5 separate regions of the Homo sapiens genome follow, and regions 2, 3, 4 and 5 are each linked to region 1. The links come from fine-mapping of genetic effects on gene expression. A gene starts in region 1. Each other region holds a variant in brackets. All regions are shown on one strand. Distances are between the middles of the regions. Region 1 holds the start of MCC (MCC regulator of Wnt signaling pathway). Region 2 overlaps MCC (MCC regulator of Wnt signaling pathway). Region 3 overlaps MCC (MCC regulator of Wnt signaling pathway). Region 4 overlaps MCC (MCC regulator of Wnt signaling pathway). Region 5 overlaps DCP2 (decapping mRNA 2).

Evidence for each region. PIP is the estimated chance that this variant, and not a neighbour inherited with it, causes the effect. A credible set is the group of variants that fine-mapping cannot tell apart.
Region 2: its variant is the best candidate, but not a certain one, in a credible set for the expression of MCC in tibial nerve (GTEx, PIP 0.67).
Region 3: its variant is the best candidate, but not a certain one, in a credible set for the expression of MCC in skeletal muscle (GTEx, PIP 0.71).
Region 4: its variant is the best candidate, but not a certain one, in a credible set for the expression of MCC in aorta (GTEx, PIP 0.50).
Region 5: its variant is the best candidate, but not a certain one, in a credible set for the expression of MCC in whole blood (TOPMed, PIP 0.75).

What each region holds. Positions count from the first base shown.
Region 1 is chr5:113,485,920-113,491,783 of GRCh38, forward strand. It overlaps MCC (MCC regulator of Wnt signaling pathway), which reads right to left and starts at 2,534. Exons shown (of 19, transcript NM_001085377.2): 1 at 2,326-2,534. The coding sequence starts at 2,495. RefSeq lists an enhancer at 2,433-2,727.
Region 2 is chr5:113,276,023-113,281,022 of GRCh38, forward strand. The region is part of intron 3 of MCC (MCC regulator of Wnt signaling pathway); the gene reads right to left. Among named protein-coding and RNA genes, the nearest start is that of TSSK1B, 160 kb to the right of the region's middle. The variant T/C (reference allele first, on the strand shown) is at 2,023.
Region 3 is chr5:113,093,092-113,098,091 of GRCh38, forward strand. The region is part of intron 8 of MCC (MCC regulator of Wnt signaling pathway); the gene reads right to left. Among named protein-coding and RNA genes, the nearest start is that of DCP2, 120 kb to the left of the region's middle. The variant T/G (reference allele first, on the strand shown) is at 2,425.
Region 4 is chr5:113,024,744-113,029,743 of GRCh38, forward strand. MCC (MCC regulator of Wnt signaling pathway) reads right to left here. Exons shown (of 19, transcript NM_001085377.2): 18 at 4,191-4,313; 19 at 1-2,739. The coding sequence ends at 2,559. Among named protein-coding and RNA genes, the nearest start is that of DCP2, 50 kb to the left of the region's middle. The variant G/A (reference allele first, on the strand shown) is at 2,400.
Region 5 is chr5:113,003,202-113,008,201 of GRCh38, forward strand. It overlaps DCP2 (decapping mRNA 2), which reads left to right. Exons shown (of 11, transcript NM_152624.6): 8 at 741-876; 9 at 4,737-4,841. Among named protein-coding and RNA genes, the nearest start is that of DCP2, 29 kb to the left of the region's middle. The variant T/C (reference allele first, on the strand shown) is at 2,981.

The DNA of each region.
Region 1 (5,864 bases):
ACAGGAATGCACAACCCTCCAAACCACATCACCCACTACAGAGTGGTAAGTACAGGTCATTAAATGAAAGCAGCACAGAAAAGTGGCTTCAGAGAGGGAATCATTTAATGCCCCTTACCTTCATTAGCCCCATTCCCCAAGTCTTACCACATAAACGTAAATTCCAGGTAAAACTGTGCTTACCAGGTAAACACACTTCCAGACAAGTTCCTTGTTGCCCTAGATTGCCATCCCTAAACTTCTCCTACATGGCAATTCTGCCACAGCATAATTTTCAGGGCAGCTCCACCCACAGTTAAAGTTATGATTTAGGGTTCATTACTACACATACCTTGAAACTTTTAAGCAGACACATTAAAGTAATGCAGCTCAAGGAATGTTAACAACTTTTTCCACTTTTGCCCCAGCCAGTTTCTACTCTAATCCAAAACGGCTTCTTTATCACCACCCACTTTACTCAAATTACGCTTACAGAATTCATTATCCTCCCGGGTAGAATCACCGAAAATAATGTGAGCATTTATATAGAAAGTGTAGTTCAGATAAAGCAATATATTAATAGGCCAAATTAGAAAAGGATAGCACGCTGCTAGTTTTCTGTATGCACTCTTGCCCGTGTGAAATTAAACTTTTTTGCATCCATGCGGGGAGCGGTGGCTCAGGCCTGTAATCTCAGCGCTTCCTAAGGCCGAGGCGGGCGGATCACTTAGGGTCAGGAATTCGAGACCAGCCTGGCCAAATTGTGAAGCCCCTTCTCTACTAAAAATACGAAAATTAGCCGGGAGTGGTAGTGGGCACCTGTAATCCCAGCTACTCGGGAAGCTGAGGCAGGAGAATCTCTTGAACCAGGAGGCGGAGGTTGCAGTGAGCCAAGACCACGCCACTGTACTCCAGCCTGGGTGATAGAGCGAGATTCTGTCTAAAAAAAAAAAAAATTGTATCCAAAGTTGGAGTTTGCCTTTATTATTGCAAATGAGATAATAACCTTTCAAGTAGGAAAACAACAAAAAGGAAAACTATATAATGAAATTTCTTTTACTCCCAGAACCAAAATAACGAGACTTCCAGATAGAAATTTGCATGGAGTCAATCAGAATTACATATTATTTTCATTTCCGAACAGAATTACTCCATCAAGTTTTCTGATATCTTCCTAATGTTTCTCAGTAAAACTTTAGCAAAGTAATAAAAATTCACCTAAGAATGATCAAAATTGCGTTGAGTCCCAAATAAATAATTTTTTTTATTTTAAGGGAAAAATTCCGCACTTTGCTTTCTTTTTTTTTTTTTTAGGTAGGCAGGGACAATCAGGAAGCAGCCCCGGATTTTCAGAAACGATCTTTAGCATCACCAAGACATAGACTAAAGAAACATGTAATGCACAACTTAGGCTGCTCCTTCATCCAAGGCAATTCAAATTTCCACGGATACCAAGTCTTCAATGGCCGGTGTCAACCATTCAATAGAAGCATACCAGAAAATGTTGCGATTGCCTTCTTCACCACAAGAGTCTAAGTGACACAAATTTGGGCAGAAGTAATTATTTGGCCAAGCCGGGAGGCAGGAAGCTTAAATACCGCCTCTGTAGGAAGTGCGGGGGATCCGAAGCAAACACCCCAAAGTTTGTTTGTGAGTGGAGGCGCGGAGGCGCCCGGAGCCACGCCGAAGCTCACCTGGTCAGCGCACAGAGCCGGGTAGGAGTCGGGTCTAGCCCTAGTTTGCTCCTGAGCGCTTCGTTCCTCTCAGGCTACTGCGTTTAAATCAATACTGGGTGGCAAACGATACCCATTCTTTGGGCTCTGAAGTTTGGAATTCATGGGTTCTGCGGCACAAGAAAGTTTCTTCACAGGTTATTTCCCTGTCCGAGGCTGTCGCTTAGCTCATCTCCTCCCGGTGCGGCCCTGGGGTGTCCACCAAGCCGCCGGGCAGATCGCTGCCCCGTGCTGCGGCATCTTGATGCCCAGGACCCCGAGGCTGTGGGGCAGCCCCTCCTACCTGGGACAAGCGGCCAGAACTCCTTTTCCCACAGGGAAGAACACTCCAAGCCCCCGGAAGAGTGCGCATCCTAAGGAGATGTCTCCCAACGCCTAGACAAAGACAGCGCTGGGAAAAGTTGGACCAACTGGCACCCCCGCAAGGCGAACAGAGCAGTCCCCTCGGCCTTCGTGGCCGAGCCGGCTACGCGCTCTCGGAGTCGCGGCCAACTTTTCCCGCGAGCTTCTGAGCAACTTGCCGCAAGTTGGGGCGAGGGGGCAGAGCAGGGGTCAAGGGCGCGCGGAGGGACTGATCTCGCTCCTGTCGGTTTCCTCGTACCTCCCCGCGTACCTGCTGATGTATCCGTCCCCGTCGCCGTCGCACGTCTGGAAGAGGCGCCGCATCCTCTCCTCCTCGCCGGTGCTGGACGTGTCGCTGCTGCTGCTGCTGCTGCCGCTGCCGCCGCCGCCGCCGCCGCTGCTGGAGCTCCCCGCAGCCGCTGCCGCCGCGGCCGCCATCATGCGCCCGCTCCCTACTTGGGAGGAGGAGTACGCGCGACCGCAGCTGGAATCCGCGCGGCGCGCAAGCTGCCTGCAGCCCCGAACTTGCCTGACAACGGAGCATGCCCAGTGGCCGCCGGGGCGCTCCGGGCGAGGGATTCCACCTCTCCGGGTTTTGCCCGGACTGGGAAGATGGGCGCTCTGGAATCGCCCGAGGAGGCACCTCAGGGAAGAGGGAGGAGGGGAAGGTGGCTGGAAGAGTCAGGGAGCTAAGGGTGGCAACGGGAACACAAGAGGAGGCAGAATACACTGGAAGCCCCCGGGAAGGGTGTCAGCATTGTGCATCCGGCAACGACGCGGGCCCGGGACACTTGGGGACGCTTCAGGCAGAGGGCAGGTGTACTCCCGGCAGACCTTCTCCGACCGCCCGGAGTCATGGCTTCCTTTTCCAGAGAAGCTATATAAACACTCTCCTTCTGCAAACTCAAAACGGTGCTTGTAATCCCACTCTCCAGGATTGTTCCGGGTTCTGTACCCATAGCCACCAATGAGAACCGGAATGACTGGCCTTTTTATGAAATTTTGACACCTGTCAAGAAACCTGGCCCTCGCAGCCCTCATCTTGGCTCCCACTCTGTACTGGGAAGAGTCTGCACGCTGTGTGGCATTGTGTACGTTGGGTCAATTTCTGGAAACGGCTCACTCTACTGGCCAGGCATCACTAGAATTTCCCCCAACAGCTTTAATAATGCCAAGAGCGAACATAATAGATGGTCTCATTTGATCCACACTACAGACCTGGAAGATGCCTCTTTTATTATCAATCCTACGACTTAGGAAGTATTAATAGATAAGTACCTCATAGAGTTATCTTACATATAAAAGGAGAGCAGACATAATGCAGTTAGGACAATGTCTGACACCTAGTAAGTGCTCAACAACTGTTAGCTCTCATTGTTCCCAATTTACAGGTAAGAAAACTGAGGTACCAAGACCTGCTCAAGGTTCCAGGTTTAGTAAGTGTTAGGGCAGAGGCAAGCCCGGGCAGCCTAACTCCAGAGCAGGAGCCTTTAAACACTGCACTATTCCCCCATAGCCAAAGGGAAACCACAGTGAAGCAATTTGTGGTTTCGTGAATGACTCATTATTCTGTCCTGGATTTTCTGCCAGAGAGGCGTGTGAAGTTCTCTGGTGGTTTTAAAATATGTCCACAGATTCTTTGGTGCACCCCTCATCAAGAGGTGGAGTCTGTTGCTTCCCCTAAACCTGGATTGGACTTGTGACTGCCTTGACTTCTGAGACTAGGTTAGAAAAGGCAATGCAGATTGCACTTGGCTCTCTCCCTTGGGACACTTACCTTTGAAGCCTTGAGCTGCCTGAAAAGAAGTTTGGCTACCCTGAAGCTGGAGAAACCATGCAGAAAGACCATGTAAAGAAAAAAGGAGATGACCAAAGAGCTACAGCTGTTCTAGCCCTGGATCTTAGAATCTTCCCAGACTAGGTGCCAGACATGAGTGAGAGATGATGCTAGCTCTAGATGCTGCAACTGCATTGGAGACCCTGAGCAAAACTGGCTAACCAACCCCCAGAGCTGTGAAGATAATAATTAAAAATTGTTGTTTTAAGCCATTAAGTTTTGAGGTGATTTGTTATGCAGCAATATATAACTGGAACAAGTCCATATGTCTTGGGAATGTCTGCTAGGTCAGAAGGAAGGAATCTCTGCTCTCTTTCTCCTCCTCTCCACCCCATCTACCTATTCCTACTTTACTTCTTTATTATTCTCTAAGTTCCCAGTATTTCAGGGCACTAAAATCATAGATTCATGAGTTAATGAGTTAATGGGTTATCATGGGAGTGGGACTAGTGACTTTATAAGAAGAGAAGGAGAGACCTGAGTTAGCAGGCTCAGCCCCCTTGCCATGTGATGCCCTGCACTGTTTTGGGACTCTGCACAGAGTCCCCACCAGCAGGGTGGCCCATTGACCTTGGACTTTTCATTCTCCAGAACTGTAAGAAATAAATTCATTTCTTTATAAATCACCCTAGTTTCAGGTAGTCTGTTCTAAGCAACAGAAAATTGACAAGACCAGAAATTAGTACCGGGAGTGGGGTGTTAACGAAAACGAATACCTGAAAATGGAGAAGCAGCTTTGAAACTGGATAATGAGCAGAGGCTACAAGAATGAAGCAGCAGTCTAGAAAAAGCCTAGGTTCTAGTGAGGGCTGAGAAGACAGGAAGAACAGGGAAAGTTTGGAACTCCTTAGAAATTGGTTAAATGGTCATAATCAGAATGCTGATGGAACTATGGACAGTAAAGGCCATTCTGACAAGGTCTCAGATGGAACTGAGGAACAAGGTACAAGAAAATGGAGTAAAGACCATCCTTGTTATAAATTGGCAAAGAACTTAGCTGAACTGTTCTATGCCTGAGGGCTTTCTGGAAGGCTGAACTTGAGAGAGAGAAACTGGGGTATCTGGCCAAAGAAATATCTAAGCAGTAAAGCATTCAGGCTGCAGCATGGCTACTTTTAACCACTTACATCAAGCTGTGAGAGGGGGAAAAAAACTTTAAAGGTGGAATTTACAATCATAAGAGAAGCAAAGTGGAAAGATTTGGAAAACTCTCAGCCTGGCCATGTGAAGAGTGAAAAGGTGTGTTTGGGAGAGGAAACCAAGGGTGTAGCCCAGCAACCTTTTGTTCCAGAGATTAGTAAAGGAAGAAAGTATCATTACGAGAAGGAAAGACCTCGATGGCATTTCAGAGAACTTTGAGTTGTTCCTCTCATCACAGACCCAGAGGCAGGAGGACAGAATGGTTTCAGGAGACAGACATGAGGCACCTTTCATGGGCTTGCTGCCAAGGTCTCTCTCAGGTCTTTACTTCCCAAATTCTGGTACAGTGCTTTTTGGACATGCCAGCTGTGGCTCAAGAAGCTTTAGGTGTGAATTGACCTGTCACTCAAGAAGATGAGAACCATAGGCCTTAATGGCATCCATATGATGCCATTATAATTCTTCAGGTTTGCAGAAAGCGAGAGCTGTGGAGATGTGGGGTCTCCACCTAGATGTCAAAGGATTTTTGCTGAAAGCCTGGGTCCAGGCAAAGGCTTGTAACAAGGGCAGAGCACTTCAGAGAGCTCCAACTAAGGCAATGTTAAGCAGAATTGTAGGGTCAGAGCTGCTGCAGAGAGTTTCCAACAGAGCAATGCCTAGTGGAGCTGTGGGAACAGGGCCACTACCAGAACCCCAGAACTGTGGAGTCACCAACAGCATGCAACATCTACTTGAGAAAGCTTCAGGCACCAGGCTCCAACCTGTATGGGCAGCTGTATGGGCTGTACCCAGCAAAGCCATAGACGTGGGGCTGTCTAAGGCCTTGTGGGCCC
Region 2 (5,000 bases), 210 kb before region 1:
ATGGATGGGCTGTCAAAGGCCACAGGTGGCAAGAATCTCAAGGCCACAGTGGCCACATTGATTCTGGCCCCAAAGGGTAACCAGTGTGGGAACAGCACAGCAGCCCATGCTGGCTCCCCAAGCTGCTGCCTTCCTCCTTGCCCCACACGCCTCCCCTGACTCCCTCCAGACACCCTGGCAGCACTCCTTCACCATTGTAAAGGCATTCTTAAATAAGCAACAGGCTGGAGACTGAGTACGCAGGCCTGGGTAGAACAACAGATGGTCCTAATTTATTATAGCTATGTGTTTGGTTTTTTTAAACTGAACTTTATAGTCTTTGGATTATTTTACAAAGACCACCCTGGGGCATCAAGGTACCCTTGTTTTTTCTTCTTTAACGTCAGACACCAATTCTGCACAATACACTGCTCAGTTTCTTCATTTACACTATTTTCCCTCTCTCCTCCCCCACTTTCCTTCCTTTGATCTGCCCTAAAGATATTAGAAAACACAAAGTTATGTAGGTGTGCTTATAACGAACACAGATTGAAAACCTACATACTTACTCAGTCGTTAACTGTATATTATGATATATAAGATGGACTATCAGAGTTATTAAAAATCAAGTTGTTTGTTTTTTGAGACAGGGTCTGGCTCTGTTGCCCAGGCTGGAGTACAGTGGTACAATCTCGGCTCACTGGGGCCTCGACTTTCCAGGCTCAAGTGATCCTCCCACTTCAGCTTCCCGAGTGGCTGGGCCTATGTGTACTCGTCACCACACCCAACTAATTTTTCTTCTTATTTTTTTTTTTTTTTTGTAGAGATGGTCTCACGGTGTTACCGAGGCTGGTCTACACTCCTAGGCTCAAGTGATTCCCCCCACCTCAGGCTTCCAAATTGCTGGAATTACAGGTGTGAGCCATTGCACCTGGCCAAAAGGAATCAAGTTTTTAAAAAGAAGCTATATCAAGGAAAACTTGAAAAAAATGCAGAATATGATTCTTTAAAACTCAAGTATGATCCCTTTAAAGAAATCTTTATAACTAAAGACATACCGGCCAGGCATGGTGGCTCACACCTGTAATCCCAGCACTTTGGGAGGCCTAGGCAGGCAGATCACCTGAGGTCAGGAGTTCAAGACCAGCCTGGCCAACATGGTGAAACCCCATCTCTACTAAAAAAAAACAAAAAACAAAAACACAAACAAAAAAAAAACAGCCAGACATCATGGCGGGCACCTGTAATCCCAGCTACTCGGGAGGCTGAGGCAGCAGAATCGCTTGAACCCAGGAGGCAGAGGTTGCAGTGAGCCGAGATTGTGCCACTGCACTCCAGCCTGGGTGACAGAGTGAGACTCCATCTCAAAAAAAAAAAAAAATTACCAAAATGTTACCTGATAGTAAAATACAAAATTTTTTGTTTACTCATTTATTTCCCAAGTTTTGTATGAATATGCACTATTTTTATGATCATGCCTGCATACTCCTTACTCTTTATCCTGCCCTTTCTGTAAGGAGTCCAAGGTGGAAATGCTCATGTGATGTGAACTAATTAAATTTTTCTTAAAAACAATTTTAAAAACCATGACTTAAAAAGCACGGTCTGCTTTAGTTATAATGGCAGATTCTGAACTATACACACATGTATTATATATACATAAAATGCTAGAAGACAGACTATGGTCCTTTCATCTGCATTTGAGTACAAACAGTACCAAATGGTTACTTCATACCACTCTTTATTTATGTGGTATATGCGATATTGGCATCTACTGTGGAGAGACTGGAATAAACTATATGTCTACATCACCCATCAGCCATCTGCATTGTGAGTGAACAGCCATGAAGACCAAAGATGCCCAAATCCTGACCTGTCTCTGAGCCTTATTATCCAACAGTCTACTGCACATTTCCACTTAGATGACCAGCAGGCATCTCAAACTCAGAATGCCCAAATCTAGACTCATCATTCCTCACGAACTGGATTTTACTAGGAGATCTCCAGTCTCACCTATCAGCAGAATCCCCTCAGAAACCTGGG[T/C]ATTATTCCCAATGCCTGTCCTTCCCTGCAACCTACCAAGCCATCTTCCAGCTCCAACAGCCATGACAACATGGTCTGAGAAAGGAGTAGCATTATGCAAACAGCAGGGACTTCAGGAATCAAACCCTAATTGAAACCTGGCCCTGCCATCTACCAGACCTGTGACCTTGGACAAGATCCTTAACCTGTCTGAGCTTCTATTCTCTCACATCAAATGCCCCTAAAGACAGGATCTGTCTCATGGGACCATGGCATACTTTAAATGAAGGCCATTCACTAGAAAGTGAATGCTGAGGGTCAGGCACTATTAGGCACTATGCAGGTACTAGGGTCAATGGTGAATAACAGCCATTGTGGTACGAAATACCAAGTCCTCAGGCCTTTACAGTGTATTAACTGCTACAATGCGAACTACCCAATGCAACGGGGAACACAGGAGAGGAGATGGAACCTAGACCGGGGGTGGCAACATCAGAAACAGTTTTCCAAGGTAACTAACATTTAAACTAAGTCCTATATGATGAGCAGGAGGTAGACAAGCAAAGTTTAAGGATGTGGATAGTATACCAGTGGAGGAATAGCAAATGTGAAGTTGTGAAGTCCAGAGACAACCAGGCACCTTGAAGGTGCTGAAATCAGCGGTGTTGGCTGGAGGATAGAATGTGAGCGACGTGGCTGGAGATATAGGTGGAGTGATCAACAGGGTATATGGGGCTGGGTACCTCGAAATGAAGGGTTTCTAGGCAGGGAAATGACCAAACAAATGCTTTCAAAGTGCTTAGCACAGCTGAATGCTCTTCTTGAAACCTTTAATAACTGCCTTCATTCTCACCACCATATAGTCTGGTTTATGCTGTCCAGAAATTTACAAATCAAGTGTCTCTTTTTGCAAGCTGGCCTTTTCCAAATATTAACATGTTAGAGTATTTTTAAAAAGCAATTTTAAAATTTTTCTATGTCGTTGGTATATTAAAGGCAAGAATATAAAGGGAAAAGCCCATGAGTCTTTAGCTGGGGTTTTTGATAGTCAGATGTGCAATGAAAAGGTTAACTTCTTTTCTGAGTCATAAACCTCAGAACTCTCCACACAACTGATCTCAGTAACTTCCCAATTCCAATTGCTGTGTTAAGTAGCACTTATAAGACACTACATCAGCCTCATCATTTCACGACATGGTGTGCTCCAGTTTCCCACCCAACCCACATAAGCACCAATGTTCAATGCTCAGAGTCACCCGAAGCATTGCAGGCTGATTGCTTTGATGAAAACTTAATTCTACCACTGAGGAATATTACAGTGTCGTATTGTGAATGAAATTCACCCAGTAACCCAGACCTCATTGGAATACCTTATTAACTCTATATAGTAATCTATGAACACTGACATTAAAAAAAAATTAGTAAAATGAATTTAAAACTCTTTCATTTCTACTGGATTAAGAATCATTCACCCCAGAAAAGCAATTAACATATTTGTCTCTTGCAAATGAATATCGGAGCTTAACTGCATGGACTTCGTATCTTTGTAAGAAAGGATGTCTTTTTGCATGTAGAACACAATTATAGATAAAATTATCCCCCAAGCCCCATCTTCTAATACTATTCATTTTTAATTTGGAAAGAAACCTTGATAAGTCCAGATGCATTACGTTACCATTCTCACAAGCTCTTACGAATTTTTAGAATAATCAGAGTATCAATGGACAATATACATTTAACAATACTAATTTGTAACAGGATGCTTTGAATATCAGAATTATTACTGTGCATCACTAAACAGTTTTGTTGTATTAAAGGCAATATGTTTTAAAAAGTATAGATGTAGCTTTTGAAATGCATAAAGGGAATACTTGCAAAATGAAATTGAAGTAATTCTGTACCATACTGCTTCACTAGAAGTATTTCAACAAAATAATATGGTATTGCCATTCTTCACATTTATCATTTCTTAACACAATCTGCAACAATTCCAGCTCCTGGAGCTACTCCCATCATCCCAGGACTACAACTTGCTTCCATTCGGCCTCCACACTGATCTCTTCTCTTCCTGAGAGAGGACACCCAGAGCCAAGTTCAGATACTCTCATGTAATCTGGCTGGAAACAAAGCTCTCCAACCCCAGTTGTACTGGGTGGGCCCCTGGGGCTCAGTGTTTGCCTTCAGAAGTAGATAGAGGCGAGCTGTAGCCCAGATCCTTTTTCATGGAAAGGGAACCTGGGGGTGGTGGGTTCCAGGGGCTCACACCGCTGGTTGATATAAAAGTAGTTGCCCTATGTGTAACTTTTCTATCTATCTCCTAGTATTATTTTACTTATTTTCATTATTCTTTATTATCATGTATTCTGTCAAGCACACTGCAACAATGTAGGGTATGTTCTGATACGAAAGCATTTCTCCAGCCACCAGCCACTCTCACCAGCAAAGGTGCTGAGACAGAGACATAGGTGAACACACTGTATTATAGAATTCTAAGTCGTAAGTCAGAGGGGTGAGGAGTGTTGCCAGACTTCATGGGGTACTTGGCACTCACCAGGAGTTGAGAAAGGCCTTCCAGAGAAGGTGACATGTTGAGTCTAGAAGATGAGTTGGTGTCACCAGATGGAGAAACGTCATCACAGGAAGAAGGGGCAGTATGAGCTTTGTTTTGAGAGGGCAGGAGGGAGGAGGAGGAAGAATACTGACTACAAGAAGATTTTGTATTGCACAAGACCTGTGATTCTCCTTTTACCTGTTGGATATTCAGACCAACCTAGGTTGGAGGCAACAGCTTAGAGGTGGCAGTCAAAGCCATGGGAATGGAAACCACCACCATAAGAGAGTCCATGGAGATGACCCAGCCATGGAAGTCCAAGGGGTCCAAAGCTCCACAACCAAGTGGGAGGTGGAAGAGCCTAGGGCTTAGGTTTAGGGCTTCTTCAGTTCCCTTCCCATTGCCCTCATGGTATATGCTGGTCAGCAAATGACCAAACTGCTTAACA
Region 3 (5,000 bases), 390 kb before region 1:
ACAGCAGAGTAACATTTAAATAAATTAAAAGTAATGCAAAACACTATCTTAGGACATGCACAAAATGGGGGGAAGGGGATGGGATATTATATGGGATAAATTATTTGCAAGGAATAAATTAAAAGAGGGACCAGTGAATGTGACTAGTGAATATAATTATCTTCTCTCTCTGTCCTGAGTGCCAAATTACAACAAAAGCCAGGCATGGTGGTGCGCACCTGTAGTCCCAGCTACTCAGGCAGCTTGCTATGCAGGAGGATCGCTTAGCTTAGAATTCAAGGGTCGAGCGCACTGTGATTACACCTGTCAATAGCCACTGCATTCCAGCCTGGGCAACATAGCCAGATCCCATATCTATCTTATCTATCTATCTGTTGATCTCTCTCTCTCTCTCTCTCTCAATCAATCCAAAAGAAAGTAAATGATGCAAGCCAGGAGCATAAGGGATTAGGCAGAGTGGGAAAGTGAGATGTTGGGGGGATTTGGCCCTAGAGCTGTCAAACACAAAGAGTGTGCACAGAAGCAGGTTTCCAAAGTGGTAGGAAATTCCTTGGAAACGTGAGGCTAGGCAAGTATGAGACAGGTCAGCTATGCGGATGCTTCAATCTCTGAGTACAATTGTGGGAGCACAGACAAGAGTCAGCTGATGAAGTCATCTGTGAATGTGGCTCACAGATGAGTGACAAGCAGGAAGGCAAGGTGGCACCAGAGTCCTGAGCAGGATCAGAAACATTTTTATTAGCCATAAAAGAAAGAGCCTGTTCTGCTGATGATACGTAGCAGTACTCACTGGGTAGTTGTAATTTCAGGCAATTAGGCTGTAATTCATAATTTCACTGTGTAATGGAGCTGGTTGAGATGAGATGATTCCCACACTATAGAATGGTGAGAATCACTAGGCTGGGAAAGTTCTACTTAATGAGCTTCATGCAGTTAGTCCCTGTGTAGTTTTTGGAAAGCTGCTATCTCGAAGTCCAGGGTTTGTAGATATTTTGCCGAGAACCACACCTCTTATTGGAGATTTTATATGATTTTTCTTAGAGCCCTCAAATAATCAGAATCTATTTACAGCAAATATTTATTTCTTTCTATAAATCAAATTTACATGGTGTTTCAGGATAGTGGTATTTTATTGTTAATGGCAATTTTGACTAGATGGAAACAGAAGAGAGAGATCACAAAATAGAAGGAGAAAACATCCAACAGCATTTCCATCTCTCGGTAAGTTTGATATGTGTGCTATTTTCTCTTTTGTTTTATAGCCCACTAAAGTACCTGGATGTGTTATAAAAATGGTTGCATTGGAAAAGGCCAGCATTTTGGCAATCTTCCTTTTTTTTTTTTTTTTGAGACAGAATCTCACACGTTGCCTAGGCTGGTGTGCAGTGGCGCGATCACGGCTTGCTGCAACCTCTGCCTCCCGGGTTCAAGCGATTTTCCTGCCTCAGCCTCCCAAGCAGCTAGAATTACAGGCGCCCACCACCACGCCTGGCTAATTTTTTGTATTTTTAGTAGAGACGGGGTTTCACTATGTTGGCCAGGCTGGTCTCGAACTCCTGACCTTGTGACCCACCCGCCTCAGCCTCCCAAAGTGCTGGGATTACAGGCATGAGCCACCGCTCCCGGCCAATGTTCCTAATTTCTTACCAGCTTTTTGACAAATTGAGTCAGCTTCTTTCATGACAGCCAAGAGCTAGCCTTGAAGCAGCCTGGCCTCCTCATAGGCACATGAGGCTGGGGTGAGTAAGCAAATACTGGTGCCCACAGCAGGAGTTGCCTCACAATCTCCGTGGCTCAAGTGTGTGTAAGGCCCTCATGAAGTAACTGGGAGCTGTGTCCATGGAAGAGGTCAAAGAACCAGGGTTCTGGGGATTCTCTGCCTTGGATTCCCCCTAAAACTCCCTCAGTCTACAGAGAGGAGGGGAACACAACACTGGACTCAGGTCAAGGTAAAAGCATGCATACCACCAGCTTCCTATTTTCTGCAACAAGCTCAGTGTGCCTTCATGTAGCATTAGAATGCCAGGAGAGTGGGTCTGTGAAACCCTAAGGAATCTGGCCCCCATGTTGCTGTAACAGAGGACATTTTACCCACTGTTGGTCTGCATGGGAGTGGGGCTAGGATGAGGACAAGGGTGGACAGAAGGCTACAGGAAAGTGGTCTAAACAAGAGAACAATGACAACTGCCTCCCCTAATAAGGCCACCAGATCCCAAATTTTGGTACCAAGAGTTAACATCAACGTAGACTTGGGCAAGATTGTTAAAGCTTTTGTAGGCCTCTGTTTTCCCATCTCTAAAAAGGGTATAATAATAGTACCTATCAGCTAGGATTCTGGAGCAGATTAAACAAAATGTGCATAAATCATCACCCATCACAAATAAGTGTTTGAAATATGTTCTGGGCTATTATCATAATTTAGGT[T/G]TTCAAAATTATTTATTTTTAGAGACAGGGCCTTGCTATTATTACCCAGGTTGGAGTACAATGGTGTGATCACAGCTCACTGCAGACTTGATCACCTGGGCTCAAGCCATTTTCCCACCTCAGCCCCCGAGTAGCTGGGACTATGGGTGCACACCATCACACTTGGCTAATTAAAAAAAAAAAAATTTTTTTTTTGGTAGAACAGAGGTCTTGCTATGTTACCCAGGCTGGTGATTTAGGCTTTGAGTAAGTCCCGCTTTGCCTTTAGAGGTATCTGATTTTAATCTGGGGGGTGTCTAGTCTGAGAGGAGTTCAGTCTGCAAATATTCACAGAATGTCAATACTATCAATATTATTAACAGAGCCTTTCTTAAAAATAAGCCCTACTGAGCTTGCACTGGTAAGTGGCTCCCTGTGGAAGTGATTTCCTTCATGGGGTGAGCTGGGGGACTTGGCACTGGGCCAGGCAGTGCCTCCATGCCTTGGGAGCCCCGGGGTGCCTGTACCCTGGTGGACTCCACCCTCCCTCCACTTCTAGCTCAGATGACCCTGGTGAAGGGACAGTGCAGGGCAGGCTCCACATAGCAGGCAGCTTCCCTAGCAGATGCCGGGCTTATCACTGCTACATGGTGGGCCCAGGAGGAGCAGGCTGGGCATGAGGAGAAGGCAGAAAGCCTGTAGCTCTTTCTCTCAGTTCACCTGCAGAGGGGAAGTAGAGGACACTTGGAGAAGCTCTTGGCCCATGTCCAGTGGGTGACCAAAGGACACTGCCTCTCCCTTCCTTGTCTCCAAGTGCTGACCACAATCATAATGTGGGGGAGTGTGCCAGGGTGCTACACCCCATTTACTGACTCTGGCTCATGGAAAGGCCTGGGCACACATCCTCTCAAAGAGCTTCCCAGTGATTCTGACACACACGTGTGGGGTCACCACAAGATGGATGAGTGAAACTGCCTGTTTCTCTGCAACTCTGATTCACGGCCAAGCCCGGCTGGTATCATAGTCAAAGCATGTAAATCAGCTGCATCAGAAACTTGTACTGTTGAATATCCACATGTTCCTAAGCCCCTTTATGGTTAGGTAAAGCCATCTGCCTAGTTCTGGTCAACAGGCAGGGCGCAGAAGCATTTAAATGCTGTGGTGGGAGCCTTTGAGTGGGCTCTTAGGTGGTGGATGGCCAACAGTCTGAGTTTCTGAGTGAATGTATGGATCAGAGACGTGCACCTGTCCCCTAACCTGCACTGAATATATGGTGCAGGCAAGAAACAACGTGCCATGCCACTGAGATTTGGGGAGTGAACCTGTTATTGCAGAAAAATCTAGCCTCATACTGACTAATATACCAGCCATACAAAAGAAGAGCCACCTGAGCCTCCCATGTGGAAGGAGCACACTGAAGCCAGACCTGGCTCCTCTCAGCTCCCTCCCATGCAGCTAGATGACAGCTGGGGAGAGCTGAGAGGAGCGGTGTTGAGACAGGACTTGGTTTTACAGAACTTTTATGAATTTAAACTCAGCTAATATTGGCATCCTCTTCCTTATCCTGAAAAGAAATTCCCATGAAGAAATGGAACAAATAAGAAATGAACAAAGTTCCATAAAGGACAAAAAAGAAGACTCAGCTTATATGTGAATATCAAACCATTAAAAGCTGTGAGATACAGATCATTCTCCATAATCCATACTTTTTTGTTTTTGCTTAATTTGAAAATTAAAGAGGACAAAGAAGAAAAAAAGCAATCGCATACTTCCACTGCCCAGATTTAACCTGTTAATATTTTAGCATATCAGTGTTCTATTTCTATGTATATACTTCTGCATATTAAAAATTATACAATGATATGAATACATTCATTAAAAACATAAATTAGAACATTATAGAGAAGTTTAAGGTCCCTTTGAGGCCAATACAACATATTACCATTATGATGTTGGTTTATATTTTTCTGGTCTATTTTCAATATTTTTATATACATACATATGAATATCTATGAAATGGAAATTTATACAGCTATAAATTCATAATAAATATAAAGTACTATTTTGCAGTCTGCATTTTCTCTATATAGCCCTGTCTCAAGAAAAGCAACACCAAGGGGAGGTAGAGTGGGACCAGCTCAGACGGGACTATGGCCAAATGAGGCTAAAAGAGATGTGAGGGAAAACATAGATGTCTCTTTATTTAACCTCTGTAAGATCACAACACTTACACTTCCAGGCTGGTCTCAAACTCCTGGGCTCAAGCAATCCTCCTGCCTCGGCCTCCCAGAGTGCTAGAAGTATAAACGTGAGCCACCGCACCTGGCCGAGGGTGACTTTTATTTGGTTCAAAATAGCATGTCTACTTGTCTCTTGAATTTACTGTGGCAATGAAACCAGAAGCCAGACCCCCAGGATGAGAGAGGCCCAGGAGAGACAGATGGAACTCATTCCAAGACATGCAGAAAATACCCAGGTAGAGCACAGTGTGTAAAGAAGAAATTGTTAACACCTTATGACATGAACATGCAGAAGAATTCTGTAAATCTGAAGAATTTCTAGAAAATCTCAGAAGGAACTTATGTGGCCGATTTGTG
Region 4 (5,000 bases), 460 kb before region 1:
TAATCAGTATAGTTTAGTTCAGTAGCTCCCACAATTAGCATAATCAAGTGCCACCTAGTTCACCTTCAAGGATTGTGTCTTGGGGAGTATTTGAAAAATACAAGAAAAGGAAAAACTTTTATAGCTTTTTTATTATACATATTTATAAAAAATTAACACTTTTGCCTGCAAAATAGTTTTTACCCAAATCACATTTGAAAGTACTAAAACTAAGGTCAGGTAGCATGAGTAAAACTGGGGCCCTTAACAGGAGCTGGAGCCGCCTCTGCCTGGGGGAATTCTCAGAGAAGGGGAGGTTCTCTGATTTTACCTGGAGCAAGAATGGAGACAGAAGTCAGTAGGCAGGATTTTATTCCTGCTTCAGCCACATGTTTCTGTGTCAGTGAAAATGAAAACTGCCCATTTGATGCCTGCTTAATCACAAAAAAGAGCCATGCACATCCCACTTTGCTCAGGGGAGGACGTTTCCCTAGGCAAGCTGGAAAAATAGTGAAAACTGATTTTTTTTTTTTTGGGGCATATGTTTTTCAGCCAAAACATTTTCCTCATGATAAAATGCAACTTTATATGAAAAGTGAAAAATTCTAAAAAATCACAGGAATGGCCAGGCACATTGGCTCATGCCTGTAATCCCAGCACTTTGGGAGGCCGAGGTGGGTGGATCAGTGGTCAGGAGTTCGAGACCAGCCTGGCCAACATGGTGAAACCCTGTCTCTACTAAAAATACAAAAAAACTAGCTGGGTATGGTGGCGGGCACCTGTAATTCCAGCTACTCAGGAGGCAGAGGTTGCAGTGAGCCAAGATCACGCCACTGCACTTCAGCCTGGTGACGAGCAAAACTCCATCTCAAAAAAAAAAAAAAAAAATCACAGGAACTAACTTTGACCAAATGATTGACAGAAACCAGTGAACATTTTCATAGTGATCAAAGCACCCCAAAGCTGGTCCTTCTAGACTGATACCAGTTGATCTGTTGTTTCGTTTTGGAGATGGGCAGCCTCACTGCTGGCCTCTCAGTGGTTGCTTTTAGGATACAGCTGTCTGCCCTCCGAACTGGTGGCTGGAGTATCCTCCAGCGAACAGAAGGCTGTGGAATTTGTATCATGCTCTGAAAATAGACCTACCCGTAGCTTATGGACATAAAGACTCTATGCAGAAACCTCCTCAACTTTAATTTGTAGTCAGCTATGGCAATGGAACACATTTTTCATAGGGAACTTTGGATGGATTCTCTGGTGCTACAGAAAAAAACAGTAAATGGTCCTTCAAGTGTATCAGTGTAGAACTGAGAGAGAAGAGGTAAAACTGAAAAAGAATAATGAATTTGTTTTAAGATTGAAGACCTTCCTGAAATAATTCAGTTACTTTGGTACTGCCTAGCCCTGTAAGCATTTTGCTTGAAATTTAACCTTTTAAGCACCATATGCTAACCATCACCATGTATCTGGGGGCAAAAAAGAAGCCTTAACTACCATTCCCTCACTCTGTCCCCGTCATGACAACAGGAGCTAAGTCTTGAACTGGGGGTTACACAGCACTCTTAAGTAGGCGTGATAAGTTTTGCAAAATGTTCAGTATCTCCTCAGTGTCTTGTCCTTAGGTAGAGACAGGTCCAGAGCTACAAATGCACCCATGTGGAAGAGATTTGATTCAGCAGAACAGCAATTATGTAGTGCCCTGGGGCGGGAAGTGCTAATAATGTTTCTCAGCTCTTGAAGAAACCCCTGACAGAATTTTAGTTCCACTACAGGTATCAAAAAGATTCCCAGCTCTAAGTCTTGGATATTAATAAGGCTCCACTGAGAGGGAGAAATCCCAGAATCAAGAGAGCGCTCCCTTCCCAGCCCTGCCTCCAAAATGAAGATTGAAGGAAGTTTTTATTCTCTCAATACAAAATTGTTCAGGCACAGTCCTGGTGGTGGTCTGTTTGTAACTTTAGTGTATCTGGGACTGTAAGTAACACCTGTCTACGCTCTTCCCATGACCTATAACTCCCAGAGATCACCTCTTATGGCCGCCTCTATCTTAAAGTTGAGACCCGGGACTTGGAAACCAAAGCCTTGCTGTAGTAAACAAATCAGCAGTCCTTTTAAATGCTGGAGGCACACACAGGTCTGTTTTCCCATGAAGCAGGAGGAAAGAGGAGAAACGAGATTCTAGAAGATGAGCCCAGCATCTACCAAAAAGAGGATACAATGGAAAATCTTACAGAAACAAATGTCTGGGATCCCACTGATGCACAGCCGCCAGACCAGAAGAGGAGGGGGAGAGTGAGTGCTGAAAGCAGAAACGAGGCTCTGCTGAGCAGGCACAGAACATGTGTTTACACGCTGTTGTGGGCCCAGGAGGGAAGAGCGGGCACCTCTGGATACAGTCCACAATGTCACCATGGCCAGTC[G/A]CCCCAAGGGTTGAGTTGGGGCACTCCATTGTCCAAGTGCCGACCTACCTGCCAGCCTTCCCTTTCCTCCTCCTCCCAACAAGTACATGGGCCCTTCTGTCCCCAGTGGCCTGCTGCAGTTTACTTCCCATGGGCAGAACTCCGGTGCGTGAGTGCTGATTAAAGCGAAGTTTCATTGGTGTGTGGCCTGGAGTTCTCCTCCTCTAGCAGAGCTATTCTTTGCTTGAGCATCCTCACTTGGGTCTCATGTCTCTCCACCATGGCCATCATCTGCGACTCTAACTTCTTCAGTTTGTTTTGATGCTTTTTCTTTGCTTTCTCATAGGCAGCCACCAGGTTGCTAGGTGGGAATGAAGGGAAATTGGTATTAAGATTCATCCTAAGTAGCATCGTGACACCATCCTGTCCACTGGATAACCAGATCTAGTGAGCACTGCTCTGAAGAAAGATCACTCATCCTCTTCGGTAAGAATCTGAAATCTAGTGGTCAGAGGAGGGACAGCACCAGGATGTCAACACTCAACGGCCAGTCACCTACTGGCTTAACCCTGATGAATCCAGCCGGATTGCTAGAGGCTGGTCACTCTCACATATTAGAAGGGGTTCTAAGAGTCAAACCAGCAATCCAAATTGGCCCAGTCCAAAACGGATAAATACAAATAGTGGGTCTATTTGTTGCTCCATGGTTGCTTGCAACATAGTCAAGTGTATCTTACAGGAGAGTACTCCTAAGGCACTGCAATCAAAGTGACCATACCTGGGACGAGAGCAGAGAGGTTGTTCTTGTTCCACCTTCCCTTTATGCTTTGGGCTGGTGGGACTCGGAATATTAAATTAGGCCATAAGCCAATGCTGCAAAGCCAAACATGGAATATACAGGCCTTTGAACTGTTCCCACCAGAGCCTGGTGGTAGGGTATACAGTGAGCCCAGGTAGGTCCATTCCATGTACAGTCATTACCCTTACAGCTGCAGTTCTCCCAGATAGTCTGAGGACTCACCCCAGAGATTTGTAAAACCCATTCAGGAGGTCTGTGAGGTCTTGAGCTTTTATTTCCAACTATAGAGCTGGATGATGCCAGGTGTTCTCAATATACATCCACATAATGTTGACTACAGAAGCAAATGTGAGAACCTAGCTGTCTTCTATTAAGCCAGACATTAAAGATTTGCAGAATTGTAAGACCAGTGCCACTTTTCTAATTATTTCTTGGAAAATAGTTTTTCATAAAAATGCCATTTTTTTTTTTGTAAATGAAATAATAAAAACTTTAAATAATTTATCTTGGTTTTAGTTCTAACATGAGAAGTATCAATAAATACAACTTACAGGAACAAAAGCTCTCTGAGGTCCTCCGTTTTTTATAGAGAAGAGTCCTGAGCCCAGTCTTAGAGCAGTATTTCCTGAAGTATTCCAGTGGATATTGTGTTGCTCAAATAAATTCCATGGCTAATTTTGTTTGGAAAATACTGGCTTAAACAGATTTTTTATTATATGACTTCTCAGAACATTTAAGATACATAATACCAGGAGGCATATACCACAGTATGCTACATTTGGCCAAAGGATGTTGTTACTGAGCATTTCTTAGTTTCCACAGACCATCTTGGGAGATGCCACTCTAAGGAAGACCAGGCTCTTAGAGAGCCAGGTAGGGACTCACCCACTTTCTAGAGTTAGTTCTTAAGAGTTAGGGAAATGTCCATCCCTGGTGCTGTGTCTACATGCAGGGTGTCAGTCCAAGTACCACAGGTGGAGGGCGGTGGGGGCTGGGTATAGGGAGATTTTTACCTGTTGGCCCGCTTTAGATCATTCACGAACTCTGCAGATTGCTGATGTCGGATTTCACTGCTCTTGGTGAGTCTCTCCAAGGCACTCACCAGCTCTTGAACTCTGGCCTTCAACTTCTTTTCTCTATATTAAAGGAGACAAAATATGCCAGGAGTAGTTTGAGATGATGCTGGAGGTGCCCACTCCCTGGGAAGTGGTGACAGAAAGAGGAAGGTTTAGCTTGCAAAGCCTAAAGGCAAGGGAGAGAAAAGATACTAAAGGGCCCAACAGCGCTACTGTCACCTGAATGAATTCATTCTCAAATGCAGATTTAAACCCATTTCTTCAATGACAAGGGCTTTTTAAAGATCTTATGTGTCAAAGAAAACAAGACAGGAATTTCTGTTTCTAGTCTTCTAGCTAATCTAGAAGTTCCTTTCTACTATTGGCATACCAGATCCTCAGCAATGAGTGCGGCCTGACCACAAACCCCCGTCTGTCTCCATCCCCTTCTTTTTCAGGTGTCCTAAGTATCTCCTGAACCACTCAGGTTTAGCAACCTACCTTGAACAGGTCCCCACTCATTGAGACCAACATGATCCCACCTTGCCAAAAACCAAAAAATTGGTAGAGGGAGTAGATATGATACTCTCTTCATTGTAAGGGTCCTTATTTCCCATGAAATTACATTTGCACTTTTGACTACGTGCCCTCCACAGGCAAAGCAGCTTCAAGTTCTGTGGATCCTCTACTACTTTGGTAACCCAAGCTAATTAGAGTCAGTTCAGGGAGGTTTCCAGTATCCAGTCAGCTCATTGCCTTCCTCTAATT
Region 5 (5,000 bases), 480 kb before region 1:
CTCCCAAAGTGCTGGGAGTATAGGTGTGAGCTACTGCGCTCAGCCTGCATTAGTACAACATTTTAATAGATTCTTTTGCAGAAGAATTCGAGACTGGATCTTTACTTAATTTGCTCATTCATTATCTTGTGCCCTTTAATTTTATACTTTAGAGGGTAGCTTACTTTCTCAGATCATCTTTCAGCTAGGATGTGGTCTGTAACTGACTTGTGCAGGGTCAAAAAATTAGCAGGGCATGGTGGCGTGTGTCTGTAGTCTCAGCAACTTGGGAGGCTGAGGTGAGAGGATGGCTCGAGCCTGAGAGGTTGAGGCCACGGTGAGCTGTGATCCTGCCACTGCACTCCAGCCTGGATGACAGAGGGAAACCCAGTCTCAAAAAGCAGGAAAATGTACATTCGTTTCATCTAAATTTAGATTTATAGTCTGCATATTTTTTAAGAGTACACTATAATCACTTATAGGGAGGAGATGGCCTGGATAATTTTTTTAAGTCTAGGATGAAAAAAAATAGTAGTGTATTAATTCATTCAAGAAATATTTATTGAATACCAGGCACTCATCTGGGTGATGAGGATAAAGCAGTGCAGATTAAAATCTCTGCTCTCATAGAACTTACATTCCAGTGGGGAAGATAGACAGTAAATAAGAAAATATGTAGTCTATAAATTTAACTATTAAGGTGTTAAAAGAACTATAAGTGAACATTTTCTGATTTGATTATTTTTTAAATCTTGGTGTAGTCGAACCAAATTCCGCCACAGTCAGCAGTTATTTCCTGACGGTTCTCCTGGTGACCAGTGGGTAAAGCACAGGCAACCACTGCAGCAAAAGCCATATAATAATCATTCTGAAATGTCTGACCTTTTAAAAGGAAAGGTGAGTGATACACAATTACAGTCTTTTCAGAAATTTAGATCATTTGGCTTTGAAATTTTTCTCAATTGGAGAATTACATCTTAATAGTTACAGAGAGCTCTGAGTTACTGATCAAAGCCTGTATGTTCCTTACTTATGATTTGAAGCAGGGCTGAGGCTTCTTAATGTTTACAGTTCCGGTGTAAATCCAGTTAATAATAAGAATTAGCATCTGACTTTTGTGTATATGCTGCCAATGAAAGGTTCATTTAAAAATAAGTCATAAGGAAAATATTTTCCAAATTAACACAAGTGGGATCTATTGGCTTTTGTTCAGGAAGAAAAAGTAACAGCGTATTGTAAACTTCGATTTTCATTGTTGTATTCGAGTGTATAATTACACTGCTATTAATACTTGTTTTCCTTTTTTCCACATGTTCTAAGCACCACAGTTTATTTATTCATAACACTGTTAATGCACATTTTGGTTGTTTCCAGTTTGGGGCTTTAACAAACAGTGCTGCTGTGAACATTCCTATACCTGTCTTTTGATGAATATACACAGTTCTGTGTAACTAAAAGGAAAGAAAAGTAGAATTATTGGATCACTGGATATGCCTGTGTTATTGAGTATCTATTTGCTAATTTACTCAAGTTATTTATATCCTCAGCAAAATACATGAGAGTTCTAATCGTTGCACATCTTTACTAATACTTGATGTTATTTTTTTAATTTCAGGTTTCAATGTTACTTTTTTTTTTTTTTTATTTTAAAAATATACTGGGCTTGGCCAGGCGTGGTGGCTCATGGCTGTAATCCCAGCACTTTGGGAGGCGAGGCGGGTGAATCACCTAAGGTCATAAGTTCGAGATCAGCCCCGACATGGTGAAACCCCGTCTTTACTAAAAATACAAAAAATTAGCTGGGCGTGGTGGCGGGCTCCTGTAATCCCAGCTACTCTAGATAGAGCCCGAGGCAGGAGAATTGCTTGAACTCGGGAAGCAGAGGCTGCAGTGAGCCAAGATCGCGCCATTGCACTCCAGCCTGGGCAATAAGAACAAAACTCTGTCTCAAAAAAAAAAGTGTGCGTGTGGGTGTGTGTGTGTGTGTGTAAACTGGGCTTGTCAAAATTAAACTTTTGTGCTTCAGAAGACATTTTCAAAATAGTGAAAAAGTAGCCCACAAAATAGAAGATATTTGCAAATTATATATATAAGGGGTTAATATCCAGAATATGTAAAGAATTCTTAGAACTCAACAACAACACAACAATCTAATTTAAAACTGGACAAATGACTTGAATAGACAGTTCTCCAAAGAAGATATGCAAATGGCTCAACATTATTAATCATTAGGGAACATTGTTAATAATTAGTGGTATCTCCACAGTGAGATATCACTTCTTACCCATTAGGATGGCTATAATAAAAAACAAAAAAACAGAAAACAAGTATTGGTGAGGATGTGGAGAAACTGGAGACCTTGTGCATTGCTGATGGGAGTGTAAAATGGTGCAACCGCTGTGGAAAAGAGTTTGGCAATTTCTCAAACAGTTAAACAGAGTTACCATGTGACTCAGCAATTCCATTCCTAGGTAATATCCAAAAGAATTGAAAGCAGGAACTTAAACAGATAACTTGTGTACCAATGTTCATAGCAGCATTATTCACAATAGCCAAAAGGTGGAAACAACTCATATGCCTGTCAACAGATGAATGGATAAACAATGTGGTGTATACACATAATGGAATATCATTCAGCTTTAAAGGAATGAAATTAAGAAATGAAATTCTGCCCAGGCATGGGGGCTCATACCTGTAATCCCATCTCTTTGGTAGGCTGAGGCAGGCGGATTATTTGAGCCCAGTAGTTCGAGACCCACCTGGGCAGCATGTCTCTACTACTAAAAATATAAAAAATGAGCCAGGCATGGTGGTGCACACCTGTAGTTCCAGCTGCTCAGGAGGCTGAGGTGGGAAAATCACCTGAGCCTGGGAAGTCAAGGCTGTGGTGGCGCCATTGCACTCCAGCCTGGGCAACAGGAGTGGGACCCTATCTCCAAAAAAAAAAAAAAAAAAAAAATTTCGAAGCATGCTACAATATGGGTAAACCTCGAGGACATTA[T/C]GCTAAGTGCAATAAGCCAGACACAAGAGGATAAATATCGTATTAATGTTATTCCATTCCTAAATAGGCAAATTCATAGAGACACAAAGTAGAGATTACCAAGGCTAGAGGGAGGGGAGAATAGGGAGTTACTGTTTATTGGTTGCAGAGTTTTTGTTTGGGATGATAAAAGTTGGGGAAGTGGGTAGTGCTGACTATACTAAATGCCACTGAATTATACATTCACAAGTGGTTGATGTGGTAAATTGTATGTATTTTGTACCACAATTAAAAAACTGCTGGGAAGAGTGGAATGAAACTAAATTAAAACTGCGTAGTAACATGAGTCATTCAAAGCCATACTTCCTTCACATCACTTACTTAGGTTATTGTTTTCCAGCTATTTTAGCAACTGGTTATTTTTCCCTATAGGTTGGAATGTAAATTAACATTCTTATTTTATATATATATATTTTAGAAGTTCCTCCTATTTATTCTATTTTAGCCAGTCCTCAAATAGCTATCTTTTCAATATCTCAAACAACAAATTAATGTTTAAAATGTTCGTTTTAATTTAAACTTAAGAATTTTTTGGTAGGAAAATTATCTTAAAGCAATTTAATAGCAAGATTCAAACTATTGCATGTCTAAGTTTAGGAATAATGGCCCACATTTTAAAACATAAATCTTAGCCGGGAACGTTGGCTCACACCTGTAATTCTAGCTCTTCGGGAGGCCAAGGTGGGTGGATCACTTGAGGTCAGGAGTTTGAAACCAGCTTGGCCAACAGGGTGAAAACCTTCACCGTCCCTATTAAAAATACAAAAATTAGCCGGGCATGGTGGCATATGCTTGTAATCCTAGCTGCTTGGGAGGCTGAGGCAGGAGAATCGCTTGAACTTGGGAGGTGGAGGTTGCAGAGAGCCAAGCACTGTGCTCCGGCCTGGGCAACAAAGTGAGACTCCATTTAAAAAAAAAATAATAGTAATCTTTGTTATTTTGTAAAAATATAGTAAAAACTTTGTAAAAATTAATACTGCTTATTAATAATTTAAAGCAGATTTCTAGGGTAACAATTGATTACTACATCTACCCATTTTCTGCTTTAAGAACTGTAGCTAATGTCCCTCGGCATTCCTTTACAGAGAGGTTCCATTTATGCATTAGAAACGAGATCTATAAGCAGACATGGGATAAGGCAAGAGGTGTGGAAAGATTTCTTTCTTTCTTTCTTTCTTTCTTTTTTTTTTTTTTGAAAAAGAGATAGTCTCCCTCTGTTGCCCAGGCTGTAGTGCAGTCGTGCCATCTTGGCTGACTGCAACCTCCACCTCCTGGGTTCGGGTGACTCTTCTGCCTCTGCCTCCTGAGTAGCTGGGACTATAGGCGTGTGCCACCATGCCCGGATAAGTTTTTGTATTTTTAGTAGAGACGGGGTTTTGCTGTGTTAGCCAGGATGGTCTCATCTCAACCTCGTGATCCGCCCGCCTCAGCCTCCCAAAATGCTGGGATTACAGGCATGAGCCACTGCGCCCGGCCGAGGTGTGGAAAGATTTCTAGGGGCAAGTGTATTTGCTATTTCATACCTTTAGAGAACTCTTGCTTTGGGAAGCACTGACTTCTATAAGAAAATACATTGATAGGGTGATTAATGAAAATTTGGGTAGGAGAAGCTTTGCTAAAAACTTGGTTCAACCAGCTAAACATATTCATGGGGTATTTTTTTTGTGCTATTACATTATGCTATAGATTCATATTATATTTCTTTTTGGGAAAACAGAATCAAAGTATGAGGGGAAATGGCAGAAAACAGTATCAAGATTCACCTAATCAAAAGAAAAGAACAAATGGGCTTCAGCCAGCAAAGCAGCAGAATTCTTTGATGGTAAGAGTTATAGCTGTCACACTAAGTAGGCAGTTCATCCTCTGAAGAGTGAAACAAGGGCATTGCCAAAGCACAGGAATGTTACTTGTTTTGTTCTTATTTTAATTGATATACTAGTAGGATTTTTGTGTAGCTGACTTGTGCACTATTCACACTAAA